7 separate regions of the Homo sapiens genome follow, and all the other regions are reported to be linked to region 7. Evidence: microRNA targets listed by miRTarBase, many of them from high-throughput screens and not tested one by one. Region 7 holds a microRNA gene; each other region holds the end of a gene's coding sequence. Distances are between the middles of the regions.
What was found. Region 7 holds the annotated microRNA hsa-miR-6734-3p (CCCUUCCCUCACUCUUCUCUCAG, at 2,034-2,056, shown strand). A microRNA usually pairs through its seed, bases 2 to 8, with sites in the 3' UTR of a target mRNA and lowers its output. Matches are read on the target gene's strand: a 7mer-m8 pairs with bases 2 to 8, a 7mer-A1 pairs with bases 2 to 7 and ends in A, and an 8mer does both.

Region 1: miRTarBase lists B4GALT6 as a target of hsa-miR-6734-3p. Seed matches in the 3' UTR shown: 7mer-A1 at 1,332-1,338 and 7mer-A1 at 3,226-3,232.
Region 2: miRTarBase lists SPNS2 as a target of hsa-miR-6734-3p. Seed matches in the 3' UTR shown: 7mer-A1 at 2,878-2,884.
Region 3: the mRNA of ATP2B4 is a reported target of hsa-miR-6734-3p. The part of its 3' UTR that is shown has no 7-base or 8-base seed match.
Region 4: the mRNA of RIMS3 is a reported target of hsa-miR-6734-3p. Seed matches in the 3' UTR shown: 7mer-A1 at 1,387-1,393, 7mer-m8 at 871-877, 8mer at 434-441 and 7mer-A1 at 430-436.
Region 5: the mRNA of CCN4 is a reported target of hsa-miR-6734-3p. Seed matches in the 3' UTR shown: 8mer at 340-347.
Region 6: miRTarBase lists STK25 as a target of hsa-miR-6734-3p. Seed matches in the 3' UTR shown: 7mer-A1 at 2,398-2,404.

What each region holds. Positions count from the first base shown.
Region 1 is chr18:31,622,316-31,626,315 of GRCh38, reverse strand. It overlaps B4GALT6 (beta-1,4-galactosyltransferase 6), which reads left to right. Exons shown (of 9, transcript NM_004775.5): 8 at 1-33; 9 at 555-4,000. The coding sequence ends at 702. Among named protein-coding and RNA genes, the nearest start is that of TTR, 32 kb to the right of the region's middle.
Region 2 is chr17:4,536,445-4,540,519 of GRCh38, reverse strand. SPNS2 (SPNS lysolipid transporter 2, sphingosine-1-phosphate) reads right to left here. Exons shown (of 13, transcript NM_001124758.3): 12 at 3,574-3,620; 13 at 1,485-3,067. The coding sequence ends at 3,578. MYBBP1A (MYB binding protein 1a) reads left to right here. Exons shown (of 26, transcript NM_014520.4): 25 at 36-172; 26 at 553-1,616. The coding sequence ends at 1,105. Among named protein-coding and RNA genes, the nearest start is that of MYBBP1A, 17 kb to the left of the region's middle.
Region 3 is chr1:203,739,430-203,743,504 of GRCh38, forward strand. ATP2B4 (ATPase plasma membrane Ca2+ transporting 4) reads left to right here. Exons shown (of 21, transcript NM_001684.5): 21 at 117-4,075. The coding sequence ends at 425. All of the region lies in intron 1 of LOC102723543 (a long non-coding RNA gene), which reads right to left. Among named protein-coding and RNA genes, the nearest start is that of LINC00260, 11 kb to the left of the region's middle.
Region 4 is chr1:40,623,222-40,627,296 of GRCh38, forward strand. RIMS3 (regulating synaptic membrane exocytosis 3) reads right to left here. Exons shown (of 8, transcript NM_014747.3): 8 at 1-3,508. The coding sequence ends at 3,296. Among named protein-coding and RNA genes, the nearest start is that of RIMS3, 40 kb to the right of the region's middle.
Region 5 is chr8:133,227,010-133,231,084 of GRCh38, reverse strand. CCN4 (cellular communication network factor 4) reads right to left here. Exons shown (of 5, transcript NM_003882.4): 5 at 1-3,674. The coding sequence ends at 3,375. Among named protein-coding and RNA genes, the nearest start is that of CCN4, 38 kb to the right of the region's middle.
Region 6 is chr2:241,492,367-241,496,441 of GRCh38, forward strand. It overlaps STK25 (serine/threonine kinase 25), which reads right to left. Exons shown (of 12, transcript NM_001271977.2): 11 at 4,032-4,075; 12 at 304-3,335. The coding sequence ends at 3,296. It overlaps FARP2 (FERM, ARH/RhoGEF and pleckstrin domain protein 2), which reads left to right. Exons shown (of 27, transcript NM_014808.4): 25 at 563-670; 26 at 927-1,078; 27 at 1,642-2,475. The coding sequence ends at 1,759. Among named protein-coding and RNA genes, the nearest start is that of STK25, 14 kb to the right of the region's middle.
Region 7 is chr1:43,362,644-43,366,703 of GRCh38, reverse strand. It overlaps MIR6734 (microRNA 6734), which reads left to right and starts at 1,989; the gene lies at 1,989-2,056. CDC20 (cell division cycle 20) reads right to left here. Exons shown (of 11, transcript NM_001255.3): 11 at 3,501-3,753. The coding sequence ends at 3,575. ELOVL1 (ELOVL fatty acid elongase 1) reads left to right here. Exons shown (of 8, transcript NM_022821.4): 2 at 1,081-1,140; 3 at 1,328-1,518; 4 at 1,696-1,776; 5 at 1,910-1,966; 6 at 2,057-2,162; 7 at 2,244-2,380; 8 at 2,567-3,303. The coding sequence starts at 1,095. The coding sequence ends at 2,788. RefSeq lists a silencer at 304-393.

The sequences.
Region 1 (4,000 bases), not on the chromosome of region 7:
TCACCATAGAGGTGAAGTCCAGTTTTTAGGACGGTAAGTTGAATGTCATCTTCAGATACCAAGGTTTCCAAAGCTGTTGAATAAATGAAAGGTAAATAAAAATGCATTGAACCCCAAAAAAGCTGCTGAAGGGAATTTTCATAATGGAAGGGAAGTATTTTTTGCTGAAGGGAATCTTTACAAAAGGAAGCATTTTTGATGCTTGTTTTTAAGAGATATACGTATATATACATTAATAAATACACATATTTACGTTAAAGAGCCCGGTTAACTATTTATGTAAAAGTATTTACGTAACATAAAGCATAATGTTTTATTTATTAAAGATGTCTAATTGTAAAAGTGCAAAATAATTTTTTCAGGTGGCATTTCTTGAGTAGTAAAATTGCTAATTTAGAATAATGGTTTAGAGATTCTTAAATTATGCACAAGAACCAGAAATTGTAAAGGGCATTAAGTGCTTTAATTATAAGATGACCTTGAACACAGTCCTTATCAGTTTTCCTTTTTGAACATGTTTTGTTGCTTTTTTGTTTTTTCCTCTAAAACTATAGGTATAAATTACTAAGGTATTCCAAGGAGCGTCAGTACATCGATGGACTGAACAATTTAATATATAGGCCAAAAATACTGGTTGATAGGTTGTATACAAACATATCTGTAAACCTCATGCCAGAGTTAGCTCCAATCGAAGACTATTAAAAGAAGTGGCTGTCGTGGCAAGGTAGACCACAATGCTGGATCATAAACTTGGAGCGCGCTCTTAGTGGAGGTCAGTGATTGGCTGTGTCACAGTGCCCTTTTCTCTGAGAAGAGCCAGCAGTCCACAGTGTTTACAGAGTGGGACTATATACAGTCACCCTTCTCTCACCCGTCCTCCCTGCTCTGAGACACACCCCTGTGGCGAGCACCGCAGAAACGGGAAGCCACTACTTAAGATCGGAAGTTAAGAGAGCTCCCTCCGAAGAGAAAATTTTTATACTAAAATCTATAATTTAATTCAAGAGAATGCTTTTATTTCCGTTTAAACATATTTTGTATATATGTGATATAAATTAATGTGTGCAAATTGTTTAAAAATTAGATGTGTTGCAGTTTTGCATGTAATCGGTTATACCTTTATTGGACTTTTATAGACATTTTTTATTTGCATGAAAAAAACTCACTAAATTTACATCACTAAACAAAGGTTAACCCTTGTGTGAAATGAAGGAACTGTCAATAATTGACAGCCAACTAATACAGTAAACTGTTATACTAGTTTTGAGCTTTAGACCTCAGCCTTTTGTGTGGAAGAAGTCACAGCTTTCTTAGGCTTTAAAGGAAAAGAAGGAAGGACTTAAATAGCTTTTCTTCCTACCGGGATTACCTATGTTTTTCCTTGCTTGCAATCTCATCTGATTTTGCTAGAAATCACAACCATATTGTTTATGCATATTGCATGAGTATTACCAAGAAAAATCTTAAAAGTTGTGATGTGACATGATATAAAGGATCTCTTTATGTTAAATGTCTTTCCATGTACCTCTGGTGTGTCAGGGATTTTGTGCCTCAAAAAATGTTTCCAAGGTTGTGTGTTTATACTGTGTATTTTTTTTAAATTCACGGTGAACAGCACTTTTATTATTTCCAGTTCAGAAGAGCCAAAAAAAAGTATCTTCATTTAAAAAGAAATCAAGTCAGTTTTTTTAAAAGAATGATCTATGGAAGAAAACCCAATAGTACTTATAATATACAAATGAATTATACTATTAGATAAGAATTAAATATTCTATTTTTATAAAGATAAATACTTAGTAGATAAAAACAAATTTTAAGTTTAGTTTTCAGACATAGAATTTCACTTTTGGAGGGGACCCTTGAATGTTAGTTTCATTCAAACTATATTTTGTTTTTTTCACTTTTAAGAGATTATATCTCTGGTGTTAATTACTAAAATTTTCTTTCTAAAAGTATAATTTAATAGAATTATCTTAAAATACATGATCAGTATTCAGTGCGCTGATATTATAATGTCTTCTATATGTAGTATCTAAAAGCATAATTTAATAGCATTGTCTTAAAATACGTGATGAGTTATTTGGTGCACTGATGCCATAATGTCTTCTATATGTAATATCTTACATGTTTGCATGAGTGTCAGGGCTTTGTCCAGTTATCTTCATATGACTGTTCTCTGAAAAAAGGTCTTACTACCTGATATCAAGTACATATCTTAATTTTGGATGAATTTTTCCACAGTAAAGCCGAACAGTATTCTTTTTTGAAAATTAGCAATTATAAAGATTGTTTAAAATATCTTGATATTTTCACAAATTTTAAACAAAAAATTAAATATCTATAAAGTGAATGTTCAACAACAATGATGAGCAATAGAAATCTATATATGAGAAACGTTTGGATAATATTTGCCTCAAGGATTGTTTACCTAAAACAGAACTATGGTTATTTATCTCAGATTGTAAGTTTTATTTTGAAGTGTCATTTTTATGGCAATATTGATAACACAAATGACCACAAACTAAATCATAAAATAATTGAATCCTTACACTTTGAGAAAATGGATAGCTTCTGTGTTATGATACCAAACAAAATATTTTCATATTTATTTCTTAGAACTATTTCCAAAATATTTATATTTCAGTTTTTTTATGGTACTCGAAAAATCAAACCTTCTGAAAATTATGATATTTGTACTTCATTTGTGTATTAGTTCATTTTCTGTTTCTATTACATAGTTTTTAAAGTCAATGAAAGAGATTGAGAATGTTAACATTTGTTGATCAATGTGGAGCTGTCCACATTCGGTATCTTTTCATTTTTATATATATTTTACAGTTTCAAGAAAACTTAGTACTACTAGTATCTGCCTTATTTTCTTAAGTCTGATGTTAATTTTTGTTTCAGGAGTGAGATATAAACATTTTGCTTTTTTTCAGTTTTGAAATATAGTTTGTCATCCTGTGAAAACCACCTCGTTTGCTTTTTGTTTGTTTGTTTTGCTTTTTTAGTGTAGACCTAAAATTATTTTTGCCTATAAACAGTGAACTTAATATGTTTCTGTGAGAGTGACAGAGCTGTGCCCGTTTATCTTCATTGTATTAATTATTACATAAAGATTAACAAATACATTGCAAATGCAAATTATAGGATGTTTGGAGGATTTATTAATGAGCATGTATTGATTGCCTATTCCATATCCAGTGCAATGCTAGGTATGTCTATGGAAGGAGTATTATTACTTCATTTCTAAACAAATGAAGTCAAGCAAATTGAGATCTTTCTGAAATTATGAAGACATCTTCTGATAACTTATCTGTTGTATTTCCTAGTCTCAAAGTCAAGAAACCCGTATATGTGGACCTAGGGCTAATAGGAGGTCCCTATGGCACTAACTGGGAAAATTACATGGTGCTTTTCAACTACAGAAAGAAGTAATGACTAATGGGCCTGTCTGTAGAGAAGAAAAGGAGAAGAGTACACATTTGCTGGAACTATATATAATTCACAGTGGAGATAGTTAATTCTTTGCTAAAACTAGGGTTTTATGAGTATTTTTTAAATCTACATTTAAGTTTTTGTTTTTGTGAAAAGTTATTCAGTAAGAAAACTTTATAATATTAAGTAGATACAGTTATGTATTAAAAATTTCCTTATATACCCTTTTGCCAGCCAAGATACTGATATTTTAAAACAAAATGGAAAAATGTCCAATACAATATTCTCTTTCTGGAGGCTTCCTACAAGTGAAAGCAGATTTTGTCATTTTATTTGGCCTTTGCTTGTCTTTGATATATTTCTTTATGTGTTTTTCAAATACATACTGTTGTAGATTTATTGTCTTGTATTTGCAAGTATGCCGGTTGAGAGAACTAAAATGGTTATAGTATTGTTTATCAGAAAGAGGAAGTGTACTTAAGATTATTTTATTTATTTAGATGAAAGGCTTCTACATAAATGCACTGAAATAAATGCTAGTAATTTCTTGTATCCCACTTCT
Region 2 (4,075 bases), not on the chromosome of region 7:
GTGGCCCCACAGCTCTGCCTTCCCACCCTCTGCAGAAGCTGACCTTGGACCTGACGGTGCTCCTGGGTGTGCTGCAGGGGCAACAGCAGAGCCTACAGCAGGGGGCACACTCCACCGGCTCCAGCCGCCTGCACGACCTCTACTGGCAGGCCATGAAAACCCTGGGAGTCCAGTAGGTTCTGGGAGGGGGACACACACCTTGGGTAGGGGCTGGGAACACCCTCACGCTGCTGCACACACACACACGCTGCACACACGCTGCTGCACACGCACACTGCACACGCATGCTGCTGCACACACATGCACTCAAGCGCATTCTCAGATGTGGGAGCTGTAGGACCCTCACAGGACCCTCGCAGGAGCCTCGCAGGACCCTCGCAGGACCCAGGGGCCTCGCAGGACCCTCATAGGACCCTCACGGGACCCTCATAGGGGCCTCACAGAACCTAGGGGCCTCAGAGGACCCTCAGAATCCAGGTGGAGGTAGCAGTCGCGGTGGCGGTGGCTGCTGCCCTCGATGGGCACCTTCTAACCTTGCTCACTTCCCTTCAGGCGCCCCAAGTTGGAGAAGAAGGATGCCAAGGAGATCCCCAGTGCCACCCAGAGCCCCATCAGTAAGAAGCGGAAGAAAAAGGGATTCTTGCCAGAGACGAAGAAGCGCAAGAAACGCAAGTCAGAGGATGGCACGCCAGCGGAGGATGGCACACCTGCAGCCACCGGCGGGAGCCAGCCCCCCAGCATGGGCAGGAAGAAGAGGAACAGGACAAAGGCTAAGGTCCCAGCCCAGGCAAACGGGACGCCAACCACCAAGAGTCCAGCCCCTGGCGCCCCCACCCGGAGCCCCAGCACCCCTGCCAAATCCCCAAAACTGCAGAAGAAAAACCAGAAGCCGTCCCAGGTGAATGGAGCTCCCGGGTCCCCCACGGAACCTGCAGGCCAAAAGCAGCATCAGAAGGCTCTTCCCAAAAAGGGGGTCTTGGGCAAATCACCACTGTCCGCGCTGGCACGGAAAAAGGCAAGGCTGTCTTTGGTCATCAGGAGTCCCAGCCTGCTTCAGAGTGGGGCCAAGAAGAAAGCACAGGTGAGGAAGGCAGGGAAGCCCTGAGCACAGGTACGGGCCCCCCTCAGCCCCTGCCTCCATCTGCCTGAGACGCCTATTTTTTTTTTTTTTTTTTAAACCATGATTTTAATACGCAAGCTGTTTCTAAGGCGCTGCCACTGGGGAGGGTGGCTGTTGCCGCCTGCCCGGGCATCCTGCTCTGGCAAGCACAGCCTGAGCCATTCCTGCAGGGGTCCCAGGGTGCAGAGACCTCCCCACCCCCGGTTCTGGGCTGGGACCCTGGCTCCAGGGCCATGTCCAGGGCTCTGGTGTTTGCCTGGGTTGGTGCAGGTTGATGTGCTGGCTGCAGGCAGGTGTGACCATCTCTCGTGCCTGCCACCTCTTTGCCCCCAGGCTTTTTTGCTGTGAGGGAGCCACCAGGGGGTGATTTAAATAGGTTTATTTCTTCATTTACAAGAGGAATATATTTGGCTTCTCTCTTAAGACTCTGAGATTCACAATCAGCAGCTCTAAAAAATAAAGGAGCAGTTTGGCTTCCGGAAGGAAGAGGAGGCAACACTCGGACCTGGTTCTTGTACAACAAGAAAACATCGCTGGGGCCCCGCTGAGGCTGGAGTGGGGGTGGAGGCTGGTCTTTGGAGGATGCCACCCCCACCCCATCCTCTTGTCAGGCCCTCGGGGTACCCCAGAGCTTGGTGGGTGAGTATTCCACCTGCTTACACACCACTGAAGCCACAGCCAGCCAGTAACTAAGGGGCAAGAAGAGCATTGTCCAAGCTGGCTCTTGGGGGGTCCCCCATTGGCCACAAGGCCTCACCCCCCACCCCACCCCCGCACCAGAACCACCTTGATTGCAGCAGAAGTGCAGGGAGTGGGTGACGCAGGGGGCTAAGCTCCCCCAAAGCGGGTTGGGGCTGGTGTGAAGTTGGCAGCTGCATCCTGGTGTGTGCATGGATGGGAGGTGGGTGATCGAAGGCCTGGCCCCCCCCTGGGGTCACTTGGTGGAATGCCAGCAGCCAGTGTTTGGGTAGGGGCCGCCTCTCCCGGGGCCTCAGCCTCAGCTCTGGGGCAGGAAGCTTTGTGGATAGCTGCTTCCTCCAGCAGCCGGAGCCCTGGCTACTGCCCCATGGATTCTGGGAATGGTCTCCTGGGCCCTGCCCCTGGAAAAGGCTCAGCTCAGCCTCGGGGAAGGAGTGGGGTCCTGGCTTGGGGGGTGGTGGCAGGGAGAGAAGCCCTGCAGAGTTGGGCTGGTGTGCACCTGCCAGAGACCTTGAGCCTGGGGGCACAGGTGGTGTACAGCTGCAGCCAGGGCCTTCACCCCTGGTGATGCCAGCTTGTCAGAACAGTCCCCATCTGGGACCTCCAGGCTGGGAGCCAACCCGAGACAGTGAGACAGTGTCCTCCAGGGAGTACCCAGAGACTTGGGCGCCCAGCTTCATTTGCCAGGTTGCGTCCAATATCCCCAAGGTCCGAGGCCCAGCTGAGCAGTGGTCCCTGCATACCAGGCCCTCGCGTGAGCCTCAAAGCCGGGACTGCCGCCCTGAGGCCTGGGCCACCTGCTCTCCGTATGGTCCAGGGTCTGTTGAGTCTTCAAAGCTGCAGATCGTGCTTTGCCCAGCAAGTTGTGTGGGAAAGTCCAGCCCCCTGGCCCTTCGTTCCAGGGAGGGCAGGGACTTGCCCAAGATCACATAAGCTGGTGGCAGGCCAGGCTCTCCCCGGACACCCACTTGGGGCTGTCTTCTTCCTTGGCCCCAGGGGCCCTGCGGCCCAAACCTAGGGCTGGGAACCTGTCCAACCGTGTGGCTCCAACACACACATCCTTCCAGGGTAACTGAGGACACAGCCTCTTCTTGATGCCAGGGCCACTCAGCAGGCCTGGGCCAGAGAGGGTGGGTGCCTAGCCGTGGATCACACAGAAAGCTTTGGGGCAGCCCAGCCGGTCCCGGACGCTGTAGGACACCTCCCAGACGAGGTGGGAGTGTGGGTTCTTCATTGTCCCAATGGCACCTGGGGAAAGGGGTGTCAGGTCAGCAGTGGGGCTTAGTGGGGCCTGTGCCAAGGCTGCCCTCCCTCCTTCCCTTTTCTTGCTGTTTGGAGACGCAAGCCTTCTCCTGGACCTGCAGCTGTGACCCTGGGTCTCGTGCTGCTGGGAAGCTATAACTCCCAGAGGGAAGGGCCAAGGAGTCAGGCCCTGGTACATCCAGGAGGATTTGGGAGAACAGAAGTCCGGACAGAGTGAGGAGTTCCTGGCCAGTCCTGGCCCTGATCTATGCGAGGCCCCACCCAGCCCTTGAAAGGAAGGAAAGGGGAGCTAATTTACTGGAAGGAGCAGCCTGCTGTCCCACCCATGGCTCCATCAGTAAATTCTGGCAACATCTTCAGAGACAAAGCCCAGAGTTGGTGGGATGTGCTGGGGTAGGAGGTGACTCTGGAGGAAAAGTGCTCCCTGTTGCCTAACCCTGGCCTTCCCCTTTCCTTAGGGAGCCCCCACGTGCCTCCCGGCCTGCACTCACCACCTCAGACTTTCACAGATGCGGGCGGCATCGCCAGCTGGTTCACCCTGGGGGAGAGACGGGCGGGGGTCAGGGTGGTGCATCAGCGGGGGCCGGGCCCGGGCACTGCTCTGGCACATCGTGTCGTGGGGGCCAGCTGACCGGAGGTGCTGGGCAGGGACCTCGTCAGCCCCAGGGGGAGATGGGAGAGCCCAGGGGTGGGGAGAGGAGAGAGAGAGGAGTAAAGAGGAAAGGAGAAAGAAGTCAGAAAGTAAGAGGAAGGGGAGGGGCCCCAGCTTTGAAAACCACTAAGTCCAGAGACAAACCCAAGTCTGGATCCACCAGACACCCCCGTGGCCTCCCACAGCTCCAGGCTGACCCTGGCACTGGGCCTCAGGGCTGGACCCCAGCAACCAGTGGGTGCACTGAGTGCATGGGAGGTCTGTACCCTCCCCGCCCCACCCCAGGGCAGGGCTCACGGTGGCTATCACGGTCCCTGCTTCCCGGCGGTGCAGCAGGGCCT
Region 3 (4,075 bases), 160 Mb from region 7:
CAGTCATGTTTTATAGTCTGGGTTTTGTTTCTCTCCTAAATCCACCATCTCCTTGTTCTGCCGGCCAATTCTCACCTCTCTATTTTCTCATCCTCCTTTTCCTTCCCCTGGTATAGATCAAAGTGGTCAAAGCGTTCCATAGTTCCCTCCACGAAAGCATTCAGAAACCCTACAACCAAAAGTCCATCCACAGCTTCATGACCCACCCTGAATTCGCCATAGAGGAGGAGTTGCCACGAACACCACTCCTGGATGAGGAAGAGGAGGAAAATCCTGACAAGGCTTCTAAGTTTGGGACTAGGGTGCTCCTGTTGGATGGTGAGGTCACTCCATATGCCAATACAAACAACAATGCGGTGGATTGCAACCAAGTGCAGCTCCCCCAGTCGGACAGCTCTCTACAGAGCCTAGAGACATCAGTTTGAATTTTCTTTCTCTGACTCTCATCCCTATTTTACCTATTTCCATTTTCGTCTATCCCATCTATGAGGTGATGATGGGACTTTTCATTGTCACGTCAGCTGCTGTGTTAACAGCAGTGTGTGTGAAGTGAACCTCTACCTGACCATGAAGAGGCAAGAGCACAGACTTACAAGGATTTCAACTTAAGCTTGACTTGGGGTTTGTAGCGGGACCCAGTCAAACCCCATTCAGGTCATGGTAGAATCTACTCCTTGGTAGTCACTTGTCATTTTTAAAGAAATGATGACAATCCTCTTGGCATCACCCCACCCCACATTCTCCCCGATGTTCCTCTCCTGAATTCTGGATTTTGTCCTACAAGTCTGTGCCATTTATAAGCTAAGTTGAGGGTTCAGAGGGAGACAAATATCCCCAAGTGAAATATGTTGCGGTAGAGATGGAATGTATAAAATCCGCCAGTAGTGTGATTGTTTTTCAATTTTTCCCACTTTGAAAACTTACACCTAAAGGCCTGTAGGCCTCTAACTCTTTCTGCCCTTTCATTCAAACCTCTCCAAAGTTCTTTGTCTTTTGTCTTCCCTTCCTTTCCTTTTTTTTTTTTTTTTTTATGATGATTAAGAAAATGGAAAGGATATGGATGAATTGTGTAAACTTAGATCCTTCTCCCTTTTGGCCCAAAAGAACCCTTGATTTAGTTCCAGAATCCAACCAGTTTCTTTGTTAAAAGGGTCCTTTTGAAGCAATTAAGTGCTGGTAAGAATATTTCTCTGTTGTTGCCAGGTTACCTTCTGCTTTTAAATTGCCATCTTGTAAAGTGTATGTGGTTCTTAAGTGCCAGGGAGATCAGCCTTGCCCATGAAGGTTGCATATGTGTGGTATACAGTTTTTACCTGAAAGCCTGAGCTTTCTCTTATTCCTAAAGTGGTGGCAAAAGAATGAACTGGGTATGACCCTGCCCCCTTACTGGGCTTGGATATTGAGGACCAGACGCTGCCAAATCTAGGACAAGACAGACCATCAAAGCAGACTTTTGTGGGCTCCTCTTTGGGGTGACCACTGCTTTCAAAGCCATCTGCCAAGGCTCTCCAGGGCAGGACCTGACTGGTGGGGAATGAGTGTTCAGAAGCCTTGGGAGAGGCCAAAGAGCCATTCTAGCATGATCTGAGAAAACCTTCCTGCAGAGGCCAGAAACCTTGAGCTTAGGTGCCTGGGGACCAGCTTCGACATTCTCTCCAGTTTCTGATTCTAATTTTTGCCACGTGTCACAACTTTTCCAGTCTCTGAGAAGGTCCCAGCCTTTCTCAAATATTCTGATTTTGAAAATATGTATCCAAAGTGGGAGGCCCCTGTGACATTTTGCCAACTTAAACGAGAAAAAGACCCCCCGCACCCGGCACACTCCCCCTTCCTCCAGCCCCGCTTCAGCCACATGCTCCAGCTGCTGCCCAGTAAAGCCCTGTGCCTTTTTTTCCCCTGAATACTGCCCAAAGCATCCCCTTCCCATCTGCCTCTCAGGAGTTGGGGACTTTGCTAGGAGATTTTTTAAGTGTTCCTTACTGGGACAACGTGGAGCCACGTTTGCAGGAGCTCCATTTGTATCCCTGCTGGTGTTGACTTCTGTGTAGGGGCCAGTTCATGTCCCTGACTCTCACCTCCCATTAGATAAATGAAGCCCACCCCCCTTTCTAGAGTGATGAGAGTCAAGAAGAGGGGATGTATGAACGGCCAAATTCCCATGTGAGAGGAAGATGACCTGATCCACCTAGCCTTTTCTTCTGGATCTGTCCTCCCTCACCCCTTTCACCTGAGCTGTCCACAGTAGGAAACATAAAGAAACAATGTCCCCTACATATCCCCATGACTACATAATCCATCATCGTAGGAAATAGGAAAGCAAATTTGATTTTGGTTTTGTAAAACGTACATGCTTCAATAATTCTTTTTTGTGTCTTAAATACTCATAGGGGAAAAAAACAGCTCACCCAAGGTGTTAGGTTTCACATATATATTCATCAACTATTTTAGAAGATTTAATTCTATCAAATCTTGTATTACCTCAGATCATTTTAAATAGCAAGCCAATAACGAGCTTTGAAGGCTATTTTACCATTCCTGTTCACAAAAGGTTCTCATGGTGCCTGACAGGTTACCCTTGAGGGCTTGTGTCTACTTTTTAAAAGTCAATGGTTTTTTTTCTTGTGTTCTAGTTTCCATAATAGGAGAGAAAATATAGAAATATATGCAAAAATTATAGTTTTCTTTAGATCAGAAACTGATATTTTTGGGTCAGCCATATGTATTTTGTTTAAAGGATTTAAAATAAAGTGCCGTCATGTAGCCCTGTGGAAGGGAGCACATAACCAGCTGTTTGGCATGACAGGTGACTTAGTATATTTGTAATTGGTTTTAAAACCAATACACCATACTTTCTTTCTGCAAACAGCCATCTTTATACTTAGGGAAGAAAAATTGTTGGGTTCTAGACTTTTTTAATATAAATTTTGTTGATATGGAATTAGGTAAGTTTAAGTGTCTATGTGCATATGTTTTTTATATAAGTTTTTTCTATTCAGTTTCACTGATCCAACTGGCAGTGGGTAAATATGGCATAAGTTAATAACACTTTTCCCCAAAATGGTGCTTTGGATTTGAAAAGGGTCTGATGGGGAGAAGGAGAACGTATCATCCTAGCTTCCTCTCTTAATAAACCTAGAAAAACGGGTAGTAAACTGTGGATAGTCAGGAAAACACCCAGCAAGGGACACAGCTGTCAGGAAATGAATCTTCCCCCCAACCCCCACCATGCAGATGGATAGACAGAATCTTTCCTGACTAGTCATTAGGATCAGGGGCCTCTGTTGGATTTGTGTTTCTTGAAGAATAGCTGGCAGAGTGGTATAAAAGACACGAATATCTCCTGGTCTATAAGGATACTCTGATTTGGGGTTTGCATTTTTCATGGTTTTTATTTCCTGTTCCCCCTGGAGTTTTCCATTAGTGAGTTTTTGTGCAAGGATCTTATTTGTGATGCCTTCCCTCCCCTAGAAAGATTTTGTGCAATATATTAAATGGGGACAGAATTCTAAATGGATAAAACAATGGCTGGTTCTAGCCCTGAGTGACAGTCTTAAGGCTAGATCCTTCCCATAGTATCATCTGTCCTCTGGAATGACTCTCCTGTCCCTAAAGGGGTTAAGAGAGAGATCACCTAGAAATCCCTCTGGACACTTGTGGGTTCTTTAGGGTTTGAGTTTCTTCTTCCCCTTGAGCTTCAGAGAGGAGAGTTGGCATGGTTAAATCTGAATGGTTACCTCACTGCTGAAAACCCAGAGGGGCGTGGCACACTCGCTTGTGTGGAAAAGCCTCTAAATGCATCCCTTCCTTTCTTTCCTGCTTCCTTTGCCTTACAATTGAAGCAGCCCGTGGTACCATCACAGTATGCAGAGACTTCCTCACCTTTCATATCTAGGGACCACCCCCGATGCATTGGTGAGGGTGGGCACTTATAAATGCCTGCTATTGTTAAGCCATTCCAGCCTCTTCCTCTGAATAGACCAGACGCCCTTTCACTTAGTTCAGTGCCAGTCCTTTTGCCTTCCCAACCCTGCTGTTAGGCCTGCTGTTCCCTTTGCTCTTGATTAGGAGAGATGGA
Region 4 (4,075 bases), 2.7 Mb from region 7:
GAATTGGGTGGTAGAAGAAACCAGATGGGGAGTCATTTTGGAGATGATTCTTCCCTGAAGGATCAAGTTCCCCTTGTCAAACCAAGACTTGGCTCCATTTACTGGAGCCTTTTTCATACCAAAAACCCATTGCAGGGAAAAGGAGTCTATGAAGAAAGTGGGACAGAATGAACAGAGCAGAAATACAAAGACAGACGCTCTGAGTCATCCATCACTGTCCCTGCCCACAACCCAACATCACTGCAGGGCCACTCCTGTCTCTGCCATATGCACAGTGAACCTCGCCTGACCAGAGGAGGTGGAATGACAAAGAGCTCCATTCCTGTAACCACTGCAGGGTTTCATCTGGGCAAGGGGGCATTTGGAGCCGGGACACTGAACATGGCAGTGAGTTGGCCCCAGGGTGGGAGACTTCTGGAGGGATCATGTTCCTTCCTTCCCCACCCCCCGTCCTCAAACAGCAGATGCTCCCCCACCCCAGCAAACAACCAGGAGTTACACTTGTGCATTCTCCTCTTCTGGGACAGGCTAGGTCCAGAGTGGCTTTTCAGACAAGCCCCTGCATCCATGATGCTGAGAAACAGACCCTTAAGTGCAGCCACACTGCATCACACAGACGTGTCAGCCTCACACAACTTTACCCTCATGGGGTAAAATCCAGGTGGGGATGAGTAACTTATTTGGTGCAAAGGGTTAAAAGAATAATTCCCCAAGGTCAATTTGGGGAGGAAATTACCTTCTTTTAGAGAGGTGGAATAGTGGAGTGGCCCAACTGCTGAGCAGTTTTGGCAGCCAGGGACTGTAGGTAGGTCAGCCCAAGTTACCAGCACATCAGACCCCTCCTCCAGCTAGAACCTCCCCTGTGCTAACCCTTCCCCAGAGGCAAGGGTCACCACGGCCTGGAACCCCCAGTGGCAGGCCTCTCTGCAGGCAGCTCCCCACCAGAGGAATGAGGGTATGGGTAGCCCCCACTTCCTGGGGTGACTGCTGGTCTGGGTATCACCACTCAGTGCTACATCCACAAACATCTATACTGTCCTGTGGGTCACTAACAACCCTATCATCCCAAAGGTGTAGAGTATTTTCGCAACACCCTGACAGTGACTGCTCTAGAGGTGAATATATCATAAACAGGAGATTAAAATACCCTTTTGCAACGGAGTTTCCTTCTTGATCCCCCACTAGGGTCGAGGAGGACAGAGCCCTTTGTCCATTTCCAAGAACTTGACGAACGCAATGGGCCTGGGGAGAGCATTTCCGCCTAAAGAGAAAATTCAGCCCAGTGGCCTCCTCCCCATCTCTATGCACCCAATGGTCCCTTTCTCTGATAATATAAGAATAGAGGCTCAGGCAGAGATAGGAGCCTGGGAGCTAACTCCGTTCATTTCCTTCCTGCCCTTACCCACTTCTTGTCCTGTGGGCAGGCCAGGTGGGGTTCTGGCTTCTTCCCCTATCTTTCTTGGGAGGTGTTATAAGACTCTGGCTTCAACGTAACACAGAACCATGCCAGCCAAGGAGGCCCTTTGGGCTGAGATGACCTATCCATAAGGCGCCACTGCCTCCATGCCCCTACAACTTTGGTTATGAATGGAGGCCCCAAGTCATTCAGACCCCAAGACCTTTCTACTGCTACCCCAGGTAGCGTACCCCTGCCTCAGGTGCTGGGGCCACAGCCATTTCAGCACCTGGGGATAATGCCTGGAGAGAGGTGGAAAGAGTGCCTTCCACACACCTCCACTGTCCTGCTGCTTTCTCCCCTACCAGATACAAACCCAAGGGCTGCTCTGTCCATGTCCTGTGCAACCTCTCGCCTTTCACCCTAGAGCTGAGGAGGGACAGGGACAGGTCTGGGCATTCCTGAGTCAGACTTCAGGATTCCCACGGGACAGATTTCACAGGGTCCAGTTCAGGCACTGGTCTCCACCAACAGGGCCCAGTTGTCAAATCAAGTCAGGGTTTGAGTGGCTGTGAGAAGCTCCAACCAGACATGGGTGAGAAAGCAAGCAGAGGCAGGTGGGTGCCTGGAGCAGATGGCTCTGCAGAGGGCAGCAGTGGGGCACAGGAAAGCAGGGAAGCCCGGAGGGGTAAGTATTGCTTAGACAGAGCTGGTGATGGTGGCAGACGAGAGTCCGGAGCCAGGCTGCTGGAGCCCAGCTAAGTCTGAGCTCCCAGACAGGGACCCTGGTCTGGAAATGCACAAAAACTGGAGCCCCAAATGAACAACTTCATGCAGTGAATCCCCAAATGTCAGATGGGATCCTCAACAGTGGCGGGGAACAACTCAGCCTCAGCCCTCCTTATTCCAGCAAACAGCCCTACCCACAGAACCTCCTTACCGAGTCATGCCCACCAGGAATGAGCCCTGAGGGGGTCAGGGCCACCCTCAGGGCCTCAGGAGGACTGTTTGCTTTAGCAGATAACATGCCCTCTGTGGCTGCCTGCCCAGGCCCACTGGCAGAGCTCCTTCGGCACGGTGGAGTGGGGAGGCTTGAAGAGACAGGAGATGAAGAACAAATGCTAAGGGGGCACCTGGCCAGGAACCCTGGAACCAAGACCTCGTGCTTCACTGGAAGAAGGAGGAGGTTCCAGCCTCATAGAGAAAGTCATTTCTAAGCCCTCAGTCCCCTGGGTACCCTCTGCCTCCCCAGGGCCCTGGCCAGGGAGCTAGGTGGGCATGCTACATGCTGCAGAACGCATTCAGTGGCAGGAAGAGCTGCCGGAGCGGCTCCAGTGGGGTGGGGTTCCCAGAGGGCCCTCAGTGTGGCCAGCTGCAGCGGATGCTACATTTCTCAGAAAACAGTGGCAGAGCCGGGAGAGTCAAGAGTGGAACAAAAGACAAGACAGAAAACAAAGCAGAGACCACCAGGAGCAGGCACAGGTGAAGAACACACAGGCTCTGCCCCAGGCCAGGACCAGGCAGCACCGACCAGTGGCCGCATGCCCCACCTCCATCCCTGGAGACTCCTCAGGGTGAGTCATGTCCACACAACACTCCTTTGGGTTTCTTTTCAACAAGACACAAAGAGACGTGGAGACATTTCAGCCCATATCATCACCAGGAGTGACTATACCCAGACAAATGAACAGATAGAACGTGGTCACGTACACACACACACACACGCACGCACACACGCACACACTACAGTCTCCACTGCCAGCTGGGATGAGCCCAGTAGCCAACAGGCATGCAGCAGGACAAGGGGTCCAGAAAGACACGAAGACTATGTACAGGGGAGGACATGGGGCCAGCAGGCACCCCTCCCCACACCACCATCCTGGCCTCTTCCTGACATCCTTAAGAGCATGAGGGGCTGGTGGCACTCTCCAGGGAAGACTGGGACAGGCGCCTGGTGAGGGATCCGAGTGTGGAGTCTGCCACTGAGGAGGTGGGGAAGAGTTTGTACCAGCCGGTGACCGCGGCGCTGAGGTCCAGCTCGTCCAGCATGATCTGGGCCATGCCCATGAAGCACTTGTGGTCCATGCGGCCATAGTCTCCCCAGACGATCACCTGCCAGGAGGAAGAGAGGGAGGGAGTGAGCCACCTCCCTGACTCCAGGACTGTGCAGCAGGCCTAGGAACCTACACGTTTCAGCAGGGCACAGATGGAGCAGAGGGAGCCAGAACTCAAGACTGATTTCACACAATAATTTACTGAGCACTTGAGGTGTGTTAGATACGATCCTATGGATTTTACCTAGATTCTTTCTTTCAATTGTTATAACAAGCCATGTAGGTAGGGGTGCTCTGTATCATTATTTCCATGAAGGAAACTGTAGCTCAGAAAGGTTAATTAGCTAACCTAAAGTTGCACAGTAACTTGTGGCAGAGCTTGGATTAGGACCTGGGTGTGTGACTCCAGAGCCTCCCAGCATTTCAGATAACAGCCTTCCCCAGGAAGGGGCAAACTGAGAGTTCAGGACTTGGCCATAGCTCTAGCTGTGCTGCTGGCTTGCCGTGGGACTTGTGTAAGCTCCATGCCCTCACTGGACCTCAGTGTTTCCAGCCACACCACTGGGAGATTTTTTGAGATGGAGTCTCACTCTGTTGCCCAGGCTGGAGTGCAGTGGCGCAATCT
Region 5 (4,075 bases), not on the chromosome of region 7:
GTTAAAATTGCAGCTATTGTCAGTAAAGCGCCTCTTATAAAGGTCATGCCTTTTGATTTGGGGGACAGAATAACTAGGCGTAGCACAAGAAGAGATGGCTCAGGTATCAGACTATCCTGGGTTTCCAGTCTTGGTCTGCTGTTCACTAGCTGGTAAGACCTTGAGTACACGACTAAACTTCTGTGAGACTCAGATGATAATGCCATATTCTATAGGTTTGCTGTGAGGATTAAATGAGATATGGCAGGAAAGCACCTTCCACAAGGCTTGGTGTATGCTAAGCGCTCAAAAAATGCTTATGATAAGGTTTAGCAAGATTTAACTTGGTGAATTCAGGTCTCCTTCCCTTTTGCACACCTAAGCACACCTGAGTAATTCACTCTAAGTATGAATGTAAATTTCCTCAGCAAAGGTTAACTAACCCTTAGGGTAGCTTTCCTTTGTCTCAGAACATATAGTTAACAAGGGACCACAGAGGTGATGATCTATTTGGTCTGTTTGAAGCCCCTTGTAGATGTAATTCTCCAATAGGTGTCATTCAGGTCTTTTCCAGAGGCCTCCGCAAGAGCAGGGGCTGGTAGAATAAGCTGCTGTTTGAGCTCTAACTTTTTGGGGGCACTTCTCTTTTCCACTTATAAAATAGTGAAAGATGCATACTCAAAATTGCTGTAACAATTAAATAAAATAATGAACAACTTAGCATAGTGCTTGGCACCAAGTAAACACTCAATCAGTGGAGATTTTTTTCCATTATATTTATTATTCTTAATTTTTATTGAATCAGGCCACACCATTGCAGGGAAATTCTGACTTAGAAAGCGCTTCATTACATTGGATCCAAATTTCCTTCTCCATGGCTTCAACCCATGGGTCTGAGACTTGCCCTCCGGGCTCTGCATAAGATAGTTCCGTTTCTCAAAACCAATGGCGACTGGGTTATTCTGACCACCTTCCTGCACCCATTGCCAGAATAATCCCTAGTTTCTCCAACCAGACTTCCTATGATCTTTGAAAGCTAAGTTCAGTTTCCCAAATTGAGATGCAAATTCAGTAAGAACCTAGCTCTTGGGTTTCCACTGAATTTCAAATGGAGTGAGCTGTTATCCAGCCTTGTAATTTGTAGATGGCAGGTGTTTTCACTCTCAGAAAATCTAACATGATTCACACTGACTTACAGAAGAGATCATTCATGGAGTGAATTCTCTTTATACAAGAATTCTTGCATACGCATACACAAATATATGTATACATACATATGCATTTCTTTGAAATATTAAATGTCTCTTTTGCTAAGGCACTTAATATAAAATTTTGACTGTTAAAATTCTATTTTCATGTAGCTTTGGAAGAAGAGAGCTTCGAATAAAAGTAGGAACACATGCACAGCTTCCTGTATTCATCAAGTATTTAATGAGCACCACTGTATACCTTGCACTGGACTAGGTTTTGGGGAGGTCACAGTAAGGAGGATGTATTCCCAGTCCTTTTCCCGTTTAGGAATCTCTCTGCACACTGCACAGAATTCCCTGTGAATAACTACACAACATTCAATATGCAGCATTGGGTAAACAGAATCATCTTTTAAATGTGTGATGAGAGCTGGTTCCGATGGGAAAGAGGGAATAAGCTACAGGGGATTCCTGGATTTTTGTGTGTCCCATGTATTTTGGATGCTTAAGCACCTAAATTATCAGAAAATCAGATATTCTCGTCTTTTGAAAAGGAGCTAGAAAGACTATAAGAGGGAAAAATGACATTAAAAAATCAAGCCATTTATTGCAATGTTTTCCTATTCTGACACATTTGGAAGCTCTAAAAACAGGGGGAAAATATGGGTTATAAAGACAGTCCAATTTCGATCTGAATCCTAACTTTCCCAGTCACCAACTGGGTGACTCTGGTTGAGTTTTCTCACCTCTATGAGCTTCCGTTTCACATTTGTAAGAACAGAAATAATAATGGGAACTTCTCAACATTGTCGTGAAGATTCAGTGAGCTAATACATGCAAAGCACTGAGAGCAATGTCTGGCACAGAAAAGGCCCTAAATAAAAGAATTCTAACAGTAAATATTATATTTTCCTAATACAATAAATAATAGCCTGATATTCATTAACAACAACCTTTTCCTTTTAGCTTCAACCTCTTCAGCTTTAAACCTTTATTAAGTCTATTTCTGTTTCTAAACAACCGGTAAACCTCCATCTTCCTACCAGAAAACTGGCCATTTGGTCAGCAGAACGAAAGGCTGTGAAATGAGTCTCTGCAATAGATGTGTCCTGAACACGGGGGCCCCTGGAGTCCCACAGCCTCCAGCTCTAGAGGTCACCCCAGGCTGCTACCAAGGGCACCCACTTCTTGGTTTGACCCACACCCCTACCTGAACCTGTCTTGGTCATTTCAGTGGGTCTGGCATGGTCTGCAGCTGGGTCTCTCAAGGCTCTGTAAGAGTAGAGGAGTGTTCCAGGGCACCACTCTCAGGGGCCAGACAGGCCAGTCCAGAGGCCTTACCAATTCCTATGAACCCCAAGCAGGACAAGGGAGAAGATTCAAGGAAGAGCCTGGCCAACTGCCCAAAGCCCTGCCAGTCAGCAGCTGATTCAGTGTGAGAGTCAATTGGTCCTTCTGAAACGGGCTGACCTTTCCCTGTCTCTGGAGTATTAACTGGGGGCTTTTCCCATCAACAGGAATGTTTATCAAATTTTATTTCTGACTGGGACAAACCTAATCTGTACCCTTCACAGTGTAGGGGTGAAGAGAAACTTAACCTCAACAATGCCCAGGTTAATGGATACAACTTTCCATTAAAAATCAAAATTAAGCAACTATTCAACTCACTTGGCAAATGTTTGATGACCTTGAGGTGCATACATATTTGGAATCAGGATAGTTTTGGTGCGCTGACGTCAGAATTACCCATTACAGTACCTCTTGGCAGGCTCCAAATAATAGATTATTCTATTGTTCCAAATTCCATCTATTCATCTGAATGGACCCAAAGAGTCTTGTGGTTTGGCATCTAAAGAAGAAATTAGTGATATTAAAAGTCTACCTGATTCCATTTCTTGGGATTTAGGCAAGATCCAGCAGGACTTCTAGTGACTTGGAAAGGCTGGATCAGGCTTGGGTGTAGTCCAGAACAGCTAGAGACAGGCATTTTTCTTTAGAGTAGATGCTGAATGATATCAAGGAGAAAACTCATAGCATGGGCCTGAGCAGCACCATCAGGCGTCATTTGAATGGTTAGAGACAGAAATGGAGGCCAAGGGTCCAGATCAGGGTAACTAAGGCTCATTGGTGAAAAGTTATTGGCCATAAGGGCTGACTGCTTCACAGGCATTGGGTTAGTCCCCAAGACCCAAGATTTGTGCCTGCCTAGTTGGCAATTTCTGAGAAGTCAGGGTAGGATTCCAAGTCAGCAAAGATGTCATTGGGATTCCTACAGCTCAGGTTACAGAAGCAGGCATTAATCCATAGGACCTGGCGGGAGAAGCCAAGCCCATCAGGACACTGGAAGGACACGTCGATAGTCTTAGACTTGTAGGGGATGCAGCACCTATTGTCCATGCAAACTCCACAGTACTTGGGTTGATAGGAGCGTGTGCTGATGCAGCCCGCAAGTGTGAAGTTCATGGATGCCTCTGGCTGGTACACAGCCAGACACTTCTTCCCTGCCTGAAGGAAAGGAAAGGAGCTTTCAGTGGGAGTGCTCAGAGAATGGACAACCACCTTCTTCCCCTGAGCCCCCAGTTTTTCCCTTCTCACTATGTGGGAGCATTCCACCTTACTTTCAGCTTCACAGCATCCTCAAGCAAGGAGGGACAACAGCAAACACAGTGAGATCCAGCATACCGCACAGGGGTAAATGGAGGACCACAGAGAAAAATGTTTTGTTTGGGTTGTATCTCACAGCCTGCAGTTTCTCTTTTGTCCTGCATTTTTGTCTTGCCTATGGCCAGTCATTCATCATGGTTTCACCAACATGGGGAGCCTATGTAGCTCCTTCATCCAAGCAAGTTCCCCTGGCTAGCTAGTGGCAGAACTGGCATCGGGACTCCACACTCAGGGGACACGCT
Region 6 (4,075 bases), not on the chromosome of region 7:
ATCTAAGCAGGGTCCTAGCTAGGCCCGCTCCGCCATCTTAGAGTGCAACCCCTGAATACCACCCTGAAGGCGGGAGGCTCATGTGAGCCCCATGAGCCCAGCCACTCCAGCGCCAAAGCCATGCCTAATCCTGGCAGAACAGATGCCACATGCTTAGGGACAGGGCTGCAGTGGGGCATCTTGTGTGTGCCTTTACTTGCCTCTCCCCCACCCATCATTTTAAAGAACCTTCCAGACTTGGCTCAATGTACTGTCTCTTAAGGTATCTTCTCTCTTCTGGCTGTTGGATGGGTTTGTGGATGGTTGGTTACTGAACACTGACTTTATTGTGCACAGGGAAAGGGAACTCACTTTACTTGGTGCCTGGAATGTCACTCTAGGTTTTTAACATGCTTCTGTTGGACTTAAGTACTGATAAAGCTGCTGTTCATAGCAGTCCAGAGGTAAAACCAAGGCCTCAGCTGGAGAAAGCATGCAGAGGCTTAGTCTTGGGGAGCAAACCCACTCCCACAAGGGGTCCTGGGTGCTGGTTAATGCACCTGCATTTTTCCTTTATTGACAGAACCAGCTTTCAGGATATCTGCTAAGAAAGTTCAAAAACAGTCATGGCTGGCAGAAGCTCTGGGTCGTCTTTACCAACTTCTGTTTGTTCTTCTACAAAACTCATCAGGTACTGGAGTTTCACTGGAGCCCAATGCAGGTGATGCTAGCAGACAGACACTTAACCCTGCTCACCTGTGTCCCTTTTGTATTTTGGTTCTGCCCTCCCATGCTTTGCCCACACACCCTGTGCTGTGTGAACAGGGAAACTGGCTCCCTTGGCCCGTGGGCATTTGTACGTGCCACCGTTGTGCAGGTAGCAGAGGAATGGGCATTCCCTGTGGCAACCCAGCCCCTGGAACCCGTGTCCCTATGCTGTCTTGCAGGATGACTACCCACTGGCCAGCCTCCCGCTGCTGGGCTACAGCGTGAGCATCCCCAGGGAGGCCGATGGCATACACAAAGACTATGTTTTCAAGCTCCAGTTCAAATCCCACGTCTACTTCTTCCGGGCTGAGAGCAAGTACACATTTGAAAGGTAATTTTGCAGGAGGCAGCCCTGGTCAGCTGCCCATTTCGATGTCCGCTCAGCTCCCATTTCTACTCATGGTGGTGGAGGCAAGTTTTCTGGGCCCTGGAAAGGAAGGGCTGAGCAATGCTTCCAGCATTTCCAAAAAACAGCAATGCTTTGTTTTTTTTTTTTTTGGAGATGGCGTCTCCCTCTGTCACTCAGGCTGGAGTGCAGTGATACAATCTTGGCTCACTATAACCTGCACCTCCAGGGTTCAAGCGATTCTTCTGCCTCAGCCTCCTGAGTAACTGAGATTACAGGCATGCACGCCACGCCGCCTGGCTAATTTTTGTATTTTTAGTAGAGACAGGGTTTCACCATGTTGGCCAGGCTGGTCTCGAACTCCTGACCTCAAGTGATCCATCTGCCTCAGCCTCCCAAAGTGCTGGGATTATAGGCATGAGCCACCGCACCCGGCCCCAGGTTTTTAACCCTTCTTTTGTCCTGCTTGTCCCATATCCTGGGTTGTTCTTGGGACAGTGTCTGAGCACAAGATGGCTCACTGGTCTGATGGCCGCCCTCTCCTCCAGGTGGATGGAGGTGATCCAGGGGGCCAGCAGCTCAGCCGGGAGGGCCCCAAGCATCGTGCAGGATGGCCCCCAACCCTCCTCAGGGCTGGAGGGGATGGTCAGGGGGAAGGAGGAATGACGCTCAACCTGCCCAGGTTTGGACACAACTACAAAGAACAGCAGGACACAGAGGTGACCTCTGTCCTGAGGCTTCTCAACAGATGGGAAGTGGCTGTGGTCTCACTGGATCCCCACTGGCACCAGCAGTGTGGGTGGGCCTCATGTAACATCTGGGAGGGGCTTCATCCCCCCACCCAGGACCTAGTGCATGCCAGCAGCTATCTGGGGCCCTGGGAAAAATGTGCGAGTCTTGAGCGCGGAGCCGCTCAAGCCACAGCTCCCAGGCCCCTGGCTCAAAGACGCAGACAAGGCCTGAGCAGTGCTCTCGGCATCGGACCAAAGCCTGGGCACACCCTGCCTCTCTCCCCAGAGCAGGGTCCCTGCCGAGGACTGGCCTAGAGCAAGCACTGGAAAAGAGGCCCTGCCATACACCCTGCGTACCCACTGCCAGGACCCTCTCAGACAAGCGTGGCACAGCCATGCTGACCTTCCATCTGGTGAACCAAGTGGCAGCCCCAGGGGCCTGCCCTGCAGGTCACAGCTAAACAAGTCTGGCAGAAGCCACGCTTGTTCCCCATGTACCTCTAGAGAAGCAGAAACCAAAGTCCCCCTGTGCCCTGGGAGGGTGGGGCCGTCTAATTTATTACTGCCCAGCATTCCTTCCAACGGGAAGTAGATGGGCGACTGCTTTGTTCACACACATTTGATTAAAAATAAACAAACAGCATCTCCCCACCTGCATTCTCCTCTGCCTGCTCTGTTCTTCCGGTGGGCCAAGCAGAGCCCAGGAATCCGTCACAGGGAAGTTTCGAAGGGGGGCTGGGCTGCCGTCTCTGCGTGCTGTGATGAGGACTCGGGACCAGGGACGCTGCAGCCCCGCATGGCCCGGGCCCCACCACACACACCTGCATGTCTCCAAGTCAGGTCTTTATTGAAAGTGGCAGGGGCCTCTCAATGTTCTATGAAAACTAACATATTAACCTCAGAATATTTCAGGAAACAAGTAATTCAATTTTCTTAAAAAACAAAACATTCTGGATGACACAAGTACTTATGAGCAGACACAGTACCTGATCCAACACCACAAGGCAAATCTATGGCCATCATGGGCCCCGGGAGGACAGCGGCCAGGACACTCCTCTGGGGGCTGCCCTGTTGCCTCTCCCCACCTCATGGGAGGAGGAGGCAGAGCTGCCCTGATAGTTGCTCTGCGCCTTGGTCTGAGCGGCCATAGGGCTGCATGAGTCTGCAGAAGACCCAGGCGTAGCTCATGAGGGCCACGCCGGCGGCTGGAGCCCCCGTGAGCAATACTGCTGGGCCAGGAGAGGGAGGAGGGCAGTGGGCATAGAGAACAGCGTCCCTGACGTGCACAACAGCACACTGCAGGGGTGGAAGGAGACGGTGACCTGGTGACCTGGCATGTGAGGCCCACGGGATCCGACGTGTCCCTGCAGGCACGACATAGCACAGGGCACCTTCCAAGTCAGCACAGTTCTTATGGAGCTCAGAACAAAAACAAACGACCTTCCGTCCCCTATCTGAACAGCAGTGCGCTTCAGCGGGTGGATGTCAGGTGGTTTCTGTTGTGTGAAAACCTGCAGAGAGAAGAGCCCACTGCTGCGTGCGTGCACCTCTGTGCCCAGGCTCCTGACGGCCTCTTGGGTGTGCAGTCTGCGGTGGCAGCCCTGACAAGCCACCGCACCACGTGGGTCTGAAGGTGTCCCCAATGCACAGGGTCTCAGGAGCAGCAATGACTGGCCCAGACCCCACCCCCAGAGCTGCTGCCCAGGGGCGCCGGGAAGGGGTCCCTGTGTGTGGACCAGGACTTGGCGCATCTGCCGGCGGCATGGCGGTTGGACCCTAAGTCCGTTGGGCGGTGGAGGGCCCAGCATCTGTCCTGCCCTGTCTCTTTGCTAAGGACTCGAGTCAGCACAGGGGCAGCTCTGACGTTTTGCCACCAGCGTGTCAGAGTAGCTCCCGGGAGCCACCAGGTGGAGGGGCAGAGGCCAGCTGAGGACAGCCATGTGGCCACTGAGGCCGGGACCCTGAGACACTGCCTCAGACCCTTAGACTGGAAAGGCCCTGCCCACTCTCTCCAGCCCCAAAGTCTCCATGGCCCTGTGAGCTGGGTCCAAACAAGGAAGAGGATGCCACGCCGCGCCTTCCCAGAGTGAAGCGAGCCCATGTAGTGCCAAATGCAGCCACACCCACGAGTGAGCACTGGACCTCACCCCACGTCCAGCTTCTTGGTGGGGGTGCTCTCCCCGACCCTATGGCACGGCCGCCCTCACCTCTGCACTCGCTCCACCAGGTGCACCATCAGCTTGTCTGAGAT
Region 7 (4,060 bases):
GAGTGATTGTACCCATTCTGAAGTAGGACAAACTGAGCAGTTATGGCCGGCTTAGGAGAGGATGCTGGGTGTGGATTTTCAGCAGTGCTTTGGGCCAGGGCTGGGGCTGGGGCTGGGGTCAGAGGAGGTTTCTGGCTCAGAATCTAGGACCTTAGCTCATCAGGCTGGTCCCACGTGGGTGGGTGGGTGGCGAGTCTGGGGCTTTACTTGGCTTTCCCAATCCTGGTGGGTCCTGCTCCCCCAGGCACTGACCTGTGGCCCGGACCCACCCTCCACCCCCTGCACAGTACAGCAGGGGCGGGCAGAGGGCGGGGCTGCTGCCAGATCTAGTCAGACAGGTGGAGCCGCCGGGGCAGGAGTCTCAAAGAGCCAGGCTCCAGGAGAGGAAGGGCTCTGCGAGAGGAGAGAGGAGAGCGCTGGAGAGGAGAGGCTGGAGGTGAGAGTCCCAGGAAAGGCAGAGGAGAATCGTAGGGACATAAGTGTCCCAGCACAGGCAAGGAGGAATCCGAGGATAAGGTTCTGGAGGGACAGAAGGGCCCAGAGAGGTGAGAGTCCTGGCAGGGACAGGAGGGACCCTGGGGAGAAGAGAGTTCAGGAAGGGTCCAGAGGGATGGGAAGAGGAGAGGGCAGGAGAGGAGAGATTGAAGGGGAGAATCCCTGGAGAGAAGAAAGACCCAGAGCTGGGGAGGTGAGGGACTCGGGTGAGGAAGGGAGACGGAGTTCAAGAGCTCCCTGTTGGTGAGAAGGTAAGATTCTCCAGTAAGAGACCTGGAATTGAGAGTTATCTTGTGGAGGAAGAGGGGAAGGGAGGCCAGGAAGTAAAACTGTGGAGAGGAGAGGAGAGTAAGGTGTGGAGAGGAAGGGTGGAACAGCTCTTCCCAGGCAAGCAGGATGTGTGGGGAGCAGATGCCTCAACCAAACTGCCTCCTCCCCCTAGTTCCCAGTAATTCCTTCCTTTCACTGTTCTGTCCTTTCTGCAATGAGGCATTGCAGGTGTCTTGTCTGGTTCTGTGTCTTATCTCTGTGGGATGGGGGTGTGCAGTGGGATCTGTCTGACATCCGCCCTCTGTACCTCCCCAGAGTCCTTAGCCAGGATGGAGGCTGTTGTGAACTTGTACCAAGAGGTGATGAAGCACGCAGGTAAGACGCTATCCACCAGCCCTTTCCTTCCTTCTTTCCCGGGATCCCTGGATCTACGGCTGTCTTCTAATGGAGAGTTCCTATGAAACCCTTGATCCTGTGACCTGACCTCATGTCTGTAGACCCTTCAAATGAAGACCCTTCGAACCCTGTGACTCTTCCTGATTCCTTTGACCCTTATTCATAGATCCCCGGATCCAGGGCTACCCTCTGATGGGGTCCCCCTTGCTAATGACCTCCATTCTCCTGACCTACGTGTACTTCGTTCTCTCACTTGGGCCTCGCATCATGGCTAATCGGAAGCCCTTCCAGCTCCGTGGCTTCATGATTGTCTACAACTTCTCACTGGTGGCACTCTCCCTCTACATTGTCTATGAGGTGGGCCCCTGGGATGCCGGGCTTTAATTTCTGTCAGCAGGATAAGGAGCAGGCCATAGAGCCAGAGCATGGCATTTCTCCTTTCCAGAGAGGTTCAGATCCATGTCCTCAGCTAGCGAAGGGGAGGGATGGCTGGGAAGGGAGAACTCTGGTGGTCTAATCCACATCCCTTCCCAGTTCCTGATGTCGGGCTGGCTGAGCACCTATACCTGGCGCTGTGACCCTGTGGACTATTCCAACAGCCCTGAGGCACTTAGGGTAAGTAGGGGCTGGGGCTAGGTCATAAGCAACCTGGTAGATATGACCAGTTTGGGGCCTGTGCTCAAGGCCCAGTTTAGGGAGGCTCTTAGAATAGTGTATGAGGTCCTAAGGCTATCCCAACTTCTTGCAGATGGTTCGGGTGGCCTGGCTCTTCCTCTTCTCCAAGTTCATTGAGCTGATGGACACAGTGAGTAGTTATATGAGATGTGAGAACTTGAGGGGAGAATGAGGTGGAGAAGCCCAGGTTCTGAATCCCCTTCCCTCACTCTTCTCTCAGGTGATCTTTATTCTCCGAAAGAAAGACGGGCAGGTGACCTTCCTACATGTCTTCCATCACTCTGTGCTTCCCTGGAGCTGGTGGTGGGGGGTAAAGATTGCCCCGGGTGAGTGGTGAAGGCCACTATGGGAAAGGGTGGGCACCAGAGGCTGGACTCTGCTGACCCTGTCTTATTGTCCACTCACAGGAGGAATGGGCTCTTTCCATGCCATGATAAACTCTTCCGTGCATGTCATAATGTACCTGTACTACGGATTATCTGCCTTTGGCCCTGTGGCACAACCCTACCTTTGGTGGAAAAAGCACATGACAGCCATTCAGCTGGTGAGGGGCTTGGCCTGACTTACCTATAACCATCCCCCCACATTCCTAGCCTGGATCCTGCCTTTATCCAGTCTGTCTCACCTTTGACCCCATCTCTCCCTACTCAACGTTTGTCTCTTTCTCTACCCCCTCTTCCCCTCTAGTCCTCTCACTATTCCCTCTGACCCTGGTCTTTCTCTATCCTAGATCCAGTTTGTCCTGGTCTCACTGCACATCTCCCAGTACTACTTTATGTCCAGCTGTAACTACCAGTACCCAGTCATTATTCACCTCATCTGGATGTATGGCACCATCTTCTTCATGCTGTTCTCCAACTTCTGGTATCACTCTTATACCAAGGGCAAGCGGCTGCCCCGTGCACTTCAGCAAAATGGAGCTCCAGGTATTGCCAAGGTCAAGGCCAACTGAGAAGCATGGCCTAGATAGGCGCCCACCTAAGTGCCTCAGGACTGCACCTTAGGGCAGTGTCCGTCAGTGCCCTCTCCACCTACACCTGTGACCAAGGCTTATGTGGTCAGGACTGAGCAGGGGACTGGCCCTCCCCTCCCCACAGCTGCTCTACAGGGACCACGGCTTTGGTTCCTCACCCACTTCCCCCGGGCAGCTCCAGGGATGTGGCCTCATTGCTGTCTGCCACTCCAGAGCTGGGGGCTAAAAGGGCTGTACAGTTATTTCCCCCTCCCTGCCTTAAAACTTGGGAGAGGAGCACTCAGGGCTGGCCCCACAAAGGGTCTCGTGGCCTTTTTCCTCACACAGAAGAGGTCAGCAATAATGTCACTGTGGACCCAGTCTCACTCCTCCACCCCACACACTGAAGCAGTAGCTTCTGGGCCAAAGGTCAGGGTGGGCGGGGGCCTGGGAATACAGCCTGTGGAGGCTGCTTACTCAACTTGTGTCTTAATTAAAAGTGACAGAGGAAACCACGGAGGCTGTGTGTATACGTATGTGAACAGAGGAGGTGGGGGAACACAACACGCTTAGCCCTGTCCACAAACAAGAGGGATGGATGGTCCAGGCTCCCACAGGACATATCTAGCTCTCTGATCCCAGTAGAGTAGAGCCCCTAGGAAGGCTGCTGGGACATAGGTCATGAAAGAAGAAAGGCATTAGCTGAAACAGATTTAAAAAAAAAACATGAAGGGAGACATGACTTTATTAGAAAAATAAAAAACAACTGAGGTGATGGGTTGGTCTTCAGCGGATGCCTTGGTGGATGAGGCTGCTTTTGGCTGCACTGGCCTTCTCCCGCTCCCGCCGCCGCGCAGGGTCCAACTCAAAACAGCGCCATAGCCTCAGGGTCTCATCTGCTGCTGCGGATGCCACTGTGGCCCCATCTGGGCTCATGGTCAGACTCAGGACCCGGGATGTGTGACCTGGAGCAAATGAGAACAGTACATACGAATGCTGATGCAGCCATAGCCATAAAGGAGGCACTGGGCCACCCACCTACCTTTTTGTTTTTTTTGAGACTTGCTCTGTCACCCAGGCTGGAGTGCAGTGGCGCAATCTTGGCTCACTGCAAGCTCCGCCTCCTGGGTTCATGCCATTTTCCTGCCTCAGCCTCCCGAGTAGCTGGGACTACAGGTGCTTGCCACCACGCCTGGCTAATTTTTTGTGTTTTTTAGTAGAGACAGGGCTTCACCATGTTAGCCAGGATTGTCTCTATCTCCTGACCTCATG